2 linked regions of the Homo sapiens genome follow. The protein of the gene in region 1 interacts with the protein of each later gene in a pairwise test. Each region holds a gene or a part of one and is shown on either strand. Other genes may lie near its edges.

Evidence for each region.
Region 2: the proteins of SH3BP2 (region 1) and ARHGAP10 interact in a two-hybrid assay, tested with the Homo sapiens proteins (one large-scale study listed by BioGRID and IntAct).

Annotation. Positions count from the first base shown.
Region 1 is NC_000004.12:2,837,802-2,841,629, forward strand, and holds the end of SH3BP2 (SH3 domain-binding protein 2), read left to right. Parts: 3' UTR 1-3,295; downstream 3,296-3,828. UniProt on the Homo sapiens protein: Binds differentially to the SH3 domains of certain proteins of signal transduction pathways. Binds to phosphatidylinositols; linking the hemopoietic tyrosine kinase fes to the cytoplasmic membrane in a phosphorylation dependent mechanism.
Region 2 is NC_000004.12:148,067,496-148,071,311, forward strand, and holds part of ARHGAP10 (rho GTPase-activating protein 10), read left to right. Parts: intron 1-3,816. UniProt on the Homo sapiens protein: GTPase-activating protein that catalyzes the conversion of active GTP-bound Rho GTPases to their inactive GDP-bound form, thus suppressing various Rho GTPase-mediated cellular processes. Also converts Cdc42 to an inactive GDP-bound state.

The sequences.
Region 1 (3,828 bases):
GAGGGGGCAGTGCCAGGAGGTTGCCTGTCCTTGGGGAAGAGGGGCAGTGACCCTGTGAAGATGCTTGACAGACAACCCCCACCACCTCAGAAGTGTGTGTGAGTGGTGAACCCTTTTAAGCCATCTTCCAGCCATTCTCACTGGAGGGAGATTTGATGGGTACAGAGCAGACCCCTACCTGTCTACCCTCCTTCGGACCCCTAGGAAGCTTCGCAGGCCTTCCAGGCTGCCAGACAGCTGCCCTGGCGTTGCCGTCTGCTTCTTCCCTGGCCCCACTCTGAGGGGCTCAGAGCTGAGGCAGAATCCCTTTTTCATTCATTTCCTGCAGAATAAAACAACATACAGAAAAGTGAATAAAACATAAATGCACAACCTAACACACTGTTAGGAAGTGAACGATCTGCAACCACCATCAGGAAATAGTTTTGCCAGCACCCAAGTGCCCTCCCCTCACAGTGTCACTTCCGGCCTCTCTGCCCTGGCTTATGTGAGTCTTGTGTTCTTGTTTTTCTAAAAAGTCTTCAGCACCCAATTATGCAGGCATTGCAGTATTTTCCTGTTTCTGTGCTTTATCCCCTTGAATCATACAGATGCAAATTCTGGCAGCTGGCTTCTTTGGCTCGTTATTATGTCTGTGAGATTTATTCATGTTGCTGTGCGTAGTATAGTTTGTGCATGTTCATTGCTAAAAACTTCCATTGTTTGGCTGTATCGTAGTTCACAGATTCATTTCACTGTCAGTCAAGCTTGTCCAATGCATGCAGCCCAGGATGCCTTTGAATGTGGCCCAACACAAATTTGTAAACTTTCTTAAAACATTATAAAGATTTTTGTTTGCGATTTTTTTTTTTAGCTCATCAGCTATAGTTAGTGGTAGTGTATTTTATGCGTGACCCGAGACAGTTCTTCCGGTATGGTCCATGGAAGCCAAAAGATTGGACATGCCTGCTGTAGATGGACAGTTGGTTTGTTTCTAGTTTGGGGTAACTACACACAATGCTGCTAGCAACAGTTTTGTCCATGTCTCTGATGCACGTGTGTTTTTTGCAAATGGTGCACAAATTTTTCTAGGGTTTGTACTCAGGAGTCTGACTCCTGGGTTCTAGGGTATGAAGATCTTTCTAAATATTGTTCTAGTTTACGTGCCCACCAGCAGTAAAACAGAATTCCCTTGCCTTCCCATCCTTGGCAGACATTTCACTTTTGCCAGTCTGGTGGGGTGTATAGTTATGGCCTTAATTTGCATTTAGCTAATTACCAAGGAGATTGAGCATATTTTTATGTTTTTATTAACCATTTTGATTTTGTCTCCTGTGAAGTGTCTATCATCTTTTGCCCATTTTTTAACTTGTTGTCTTTTTCTTTTTCTTTTCTTTTTTTTTTTTTCTGAGACAGGGTCTCACTCTGTTGCCCTGGCTGGAGTGCAGTGGTGCAATCTCAGCTCACTGCAGCCTTGAGTCAGGCTCAGGTGATTCTCTCACCTCAGCCTCCCAAGTAGCTGGGACCACAGGCCCACACCACCAAGCCCAGCTAATTTTTTGTATTTTTAAGTAGAGACGGGTTTCATCATGTTATGCAGGCTGCTCTCAAACTCTTGAGCTCAAGCGATCTGCTGGCCTCAGCCTCCCAAAGTTGGGATTATAGGCGTGAGCTACCAGATTTTTTCTTATTAATCTAATAATTCTTTGTATAGTCTTGATATTATCCATAATGTGTATTGCAAATATCTTCTCTAACTCTGGCTTGACTGTTTATGGTGTCCTTTTTTTTTGGGGGGGGTTTTTTGAGACAAGGTCTTGCTCTGTCACCCAGGCTGGAGTGTTATGGCACAATCTTGGCTTATTGCAGCCTCAATTCCTAGGCTTAAACAGTCCTCCCACCTCAGCCTCCTGAGTAGCCGGAACTACAGTCACGCACTTCCATGTCCAGATAATTTTTTTTTTTTTTTTAGAGATAGGATCTTACTATGCCCCAGCTGGTCTCAAACTCCTAGACTCAATGAGCCTCCCATCTTGACCTCCCAAAGTGCTGGGAGTACAGGCATGAGCCACTGTGCATGCCAGTTCTTATTTTTAATGCAGTTGAATTGATCAGTGTTTTCATTTTGGTTAGTGCTTTTTGTGGCTTAAGAAATTCTTTCCAGGCTGGGTACAGTGGCTCACACCTGTAATGCCAGCACTTTGGGGGCAGAGGCAGGAGGATTACTTGAGCTCAGGAGTTTGAGACCAACCTGGACAACATGGCGAAACACCATCTCTACAAAAAATACAAAAATTAGCTGGACATGGTGGTGCGTGCCTGTAGTCCCAGCTACTCAGGTGGCTGGGGTGAGAGGATTGCTTGAGCCCAGAAGGTCAAGGCTGCAGTGAGCTGTGATTGTGCCACTGCACTTCAGCCTGTGAGACAGAGTGAGACCCTATCTCAAAAAAAACCAAAAAAAAAAAAAAAAAAAAGAAAACCACTGAAATTATTTCCACTCCAAGGTCATGAAGATAGTCTCTTAGATTATATTCTGAAATCCTTATAAATGTAAATTTCATATTTAGGCCTTTAATTCACCTAGATTTGGTTTTTTGCATATGGTGTGAGGTAAGGATTCACTTTCATTTTTTTCTCTCCATAGGGTTACACACCTGTCCTATCATTGTTTGTAATCTAACTTTCTGCGCCCATCTGCAATGCCACCTCTGTCATATGTCCACATATGACATATGTAGATCTGTTGTTGGATTCTTTCCTCTGTTCCATTAGTCTGTCTGTTCTTGTGCCAATATCAAGCTGTCTTCATTATTATCAATTATGTATTGAGATCTGATAAAGTAAGTCTTTTCCACCTTATTTTTCTTCTTTGAGAGTGTCTTGACTATTCTGGCTCTTTGTATTTTCATGTAAGGTTTTTCTCCCATATAAGTTTTAAAATCAGCTTGTCAATTCCAACAACAATGATGCACTTGATAGTTTGGGAATTTATTATAGCTATCAATCAGTTTTGGGAAAATTGACGTCTTTACAATATTGAGTTTTCTGATTCATGAACATGGTTTACCTCTCTTTCCATTTGGGTCTTCTTTAAGGTTTACCAATAGGATTTTATATTTTTGTCCATTGTGGTCTTGCTTATCTTAAGTTTGATTTGTAAATATTTTATGTTTCTTTTAGTCTATTGTAAATTGTGTATTTTTAATTTCATTTTTTTTTTTGTTAATAGCATATAAAACACACCTTGTCTTTTAACTGGAGCATTTTGTCCATTGTGTATTTAATGTAATTAAATCTACCATCTTATTTTATGCTACATATTGTCTCACTTGTGTTTGTGTTTTCTTCCTCCCTTTTCTCTCCTTTTCCCCTTCTTTGAGATTGAGCAACTTAAAACAAATCATTTCATTTCCCCCCTTCTCCTAGTTAGAAAGTTAAACACTCTCTATTCTTACTGAAGTCTAGAGTTAACTAATAAATACTTTTATCCTCCTCCTGGACAACATAAGGACCTCAGGTGACTTTCATTGGTCTCCCTCATTACTTGATATTATTGTTGTATATATCTAATTCTAACTCAATGTATTTTAAAACTCTCACCTAAGACCGTATTTGTTTTTTTGTTTTTTTTTTTTTGGAGGCAGAGTCTCTGTCACCCAGGCTGGAGTGCAGTGGCGCCATCTTGGCTCATTGCAACCTCCATCTCCTGGGTTCAAGCAATTCTTGTGCCTCAGCCTCCTGAGTAGCTGGAATTACAGGTGCCTGCCACCAGACCCAGCTAATTTCTTGTATTTTTAGTAGAGACAGTGTTCTGCCATGTTGTCCATGTTGATCTCTTAACTCCTGAGC
Region 2 (3,816 bases), about 150 Mb from region 1:
TCTAGACAGCTCAGCCCACAGGAGTACTGCCGGGAATGCTCCCTTTCTGCAGACCAGCAATACTTAGTGTCCCTGGAATGCCCAAGACATTTTTCCTGTGTTCACTTATCCATTTGGAGTCTTCCAGCCTCCATAGATGCTCTTGCAGTGCAATTCCTTTTTGTACCTCATACAGGCAACAAAGGAAATTGGTTTATGCCACCCAGTGGCCTTTGGAGAAAACAAACTGGAGGTCAGAGTGACCCCTGGGCGGCCTCGTCAGTAGTTATGCGTTTGGGATGTGTGCAGCTGTGAGATATCCTGACCCAGAGTGTGGTTGGCACAGGGGTCTTTAGCAATTGTGTAGCTCCATGACTGTCCTTGTTCTTTGCTCTTACTGGGTGGGCCTGGACTTAAGTTATGAGTTCCAGTTCTAGGCGGAAGATGTGTTTCTCTAGTAGACTCACTAATGCCTAGCTGTTTCTCTGGGGCTATGCCTCCCAACTCCCCCGCCCCCCACCCTCGGGAGAGGGCTGTGTTTGTAAGGTCTCAGGGCAGTGACGTTCCTGTGATGGCCAGAGGGACCTTTCCCTTTTCTCTGGGCCTGGGGAATCCTGGAAATAGGTTTTGCTGGTGACCACCAGCCAGTCCTGCTGTGTCTTTCCAGTCAGGTGCGCTCCAGTTAGATGGGCAGTGGTTGCCTCCTCAGGGGCAGGGTTGGGAGGGGTGCTGAGGCAGGTGGTTTCCAGGAGCGACCCCACGTGGCAGCGGCAGCAGCAGCGGGACTGCTTTCCTGGCTGTCCCAGGCTCTTTGTCAACATCCACATGTAGATGTGGGGGAGCAGGTGTGGCCCAAATTAATCCTTAAAAGCCTCTGGCGATTAAACTTTAAAGGTCTCAGATAGACACAGAATAATCCCTGGAAAACAATTTGGCATTATCTTGGAAAGCTGATCACATATAGACCCCACAGCCCAGCGATGTGGTTGCCAGATAGATTCCTAGCACAGGGGAATCTGAGAAAAAAATATCGAGTGAAAAAATAAGTTCCAGATGACTATGCGCTTCTGACTTATGTGCTTCTGGTTAAGCTCACACATATGCAAAATAAATAGGATATTATTAGGGATATGTGCTTGTGTGACAAAACTGAATTTTACCCATAGCCATGGTAAGATAATGAGAAACACAACATTCAAGCTACTGGTTGCCTCGGGGTGGGAGATAGGACAGAGCCCAGGACGCAGCCTCCCTGTGGGTCCTGTGGCAGTTCTGAAGTTGAGTGTGGGTTCCTGGCACTCACCGTGTGATGATGACAATTCAGTGATTTCAGTACTTGTCACATACACTGTCTACATTATGCTGAAAACTGAGTTGGTGGAAGGGACCTGCCTCTCTTTGGTGCTACTTGGGGTCCCTGCCTCACACCCGTCTTGTTCCCTGTTGTGGTCTAAAGGCTGTGAGGACACCGTGGCTGAAGCAGGGTGAGGTTCCTGGACTGAGACCTGCAGGCATAGGGAGGGTGCGTGGGAAATGACAGACACTGAGACTGCCATGTTCTCCACCCATAAGAATGGAAAAGCAGAGCCCTGTTGTCCGCGTAGACACTGCTTGGGGGAGGAGTGGTGTGATAAACTAGGAGAGGAGCCCCAGATGGGTATTTTGGGGTTCGATGCTACTGAGAGAGGTCAGATCTTCAGAGAGGGAGGGAGAGCCTGCCAGCCTTATCTGCAACTGCGGAGCCACTTTTCCTGTGCTTGGGGATGCCTTGCTGTTGGTCTCCAGACCCTTGTAGCCCACCTCGCCCACTGCTCAGCTGGGTCCACTTCCAAGGCTCTTGGATGTTACAGGATCCCCCTTGGTCGCCTCTGTAAAGCAGTGACATCTCTCTCCCTACTGGCTTCTGCCTTCCAGGGAGGGGAGGGCTGGGGAGGTGGTGAATGGGGTTGTGGAGGCGTCTCTCTGGTTTGTTGGTTGGGGAGATGCAGGATTCCCGGCCTGGCCTTGGTTTCCCCAATCAAGCCTCCTTTCACCTCCAGCGTTGTAGAAAATCACCTTTTTCCTCCTCTGTTCATCCTGTCTTTTATTAATACCGAGTCTGTGCTTGCGCAAGTGTGTGGTGTGTATAGGGTAGGAGGAGAAATAGTGAGCATGTGCAGGTGAGACTATATTTGAGACTCTCTTACTGCCTCCTCATAGCAGGTCCTGCAAGCTAAGTGCTAGTAACCCCGTATTGCAGGTAACAGCCGAGCAAGGCCCAGGGGTTAATTTCCCAGATGCATCTAGGTAGCCAGGAGTCTCCTCTAGGGCTCTGACTTCAGCCCTGGGCCCCTTGCCACTCAGGCCCCCACATTGTTACAACCCTGAGGGCCTGTTTTGCATAGAATCCAAAGCTTTTCCCTGATGGTGGCTGCACACTAGTAGCACTGCCAGCTGGGGTGTTTGGATGAAGTGAGAAGTCTCTAAAAATCCTGGTATGAAGAACAATGTCAGAGTCAAGGTCAGTGAAGGCATGAAGGAAGTAACTTGCTGCCAGATCGCTTTGAGAGCACATCTCTGAATTTGCTTACTCAGTCATTACACAGATAATCATGTGTCTGACACGGTGCTAGGTGCTGGGTCTCATGTTATATGTGTTACATGCTCTCATAGTCTGGACTAGAAGAGAATGTCTCAGTGTGTCTCTCCTATATATACACGTATGCCTGCACACACGCACACAGAACATGTAGGGTGCATAACTGGGAGCCCCGACCTGGTCTGGAGCCAGGAGAGGAGTCCTGGAAGTGGGGGGATGCTGAAGCTGCTCTTTGAAGCATGAGTAGGTGCTGTCCAGGCATAAAGGCAGGGAATAGCATTCAGGCCCAAGGGAACAGCTCCAGGGAGGCGTTGAAGCCAGAAGCTTACTGAATGTAAGGAAAGTGCAGGCGGTTAGTCTGCAGACAGCCGGAATGTGTTCCTATTCATCCAGGGGAGGGAAGAACAAACAGTTACCTTGTTGCAAAGGACAATTAGAATTGGATTGTCCCTGTCTTCCAAACTGTGGGCAGCTATACCTTAGAGGACCATGAACTCAATTCGCTGAGTTGCAATTAGCATTCAAAGAATAATACTTTTCTACACAAATCTATGGGGAAAAAAAGAGTAGAATACAGAAAGGAAGGCATTGCATGCGCGCAGTGAGGGTAAGAGTATTGCTTCATGAAACTTGTGTGTGTTACGGATGTGTATGCCTGTACTTGGTTTTTGATATGAAATTATTCTCCTGGGTTGTGATCAGAAGCCACCTTTCGAGTTGGTCCGCTGGAGTAGCTCATGCCTCCCCTTTCCTTTATGCCACGGCTGCCACGCCTGCACCTGACCATGGTTGGGGGTTTGAGCTGGGGCCTGCTCACAGCTGGGGGTTATGAAATGCTTCTGTATTGCATTTCCGAACACTGGTGAGGAGTGCTTGGACCTGTGCCCTTTGCTGTCCAGGCTGCAATTTTCTCGTTGAGTATCACGTGAATATTTATGAACAGTCCATTGTGCCAGGCACCATGCCCAGATGTATAAGGCTCAGGCTGCCTTCAGGAGTTTCCCATACAGTGTGGGAGTCAGACGAGACTCTGAGAGGAGGAGGCATCCAATCAGGTCTCTAAACAGGAGGAACTACCTGGTGAAGAGGTGGGGGAAAGGCATTCCAGTCAGAAGCCACTGCACTTGCAAAGGCCTGGAGTTGCAGTTGGGATTTCTCTGGATGATTCACTGCAGTTGACATGCATGATGTGCCAGTGGAGTGTGAAGAGCTCCTGGAGGGGCGGCTGGAGCCAGGTGCCCAGGGGCCTGTGTTACAGA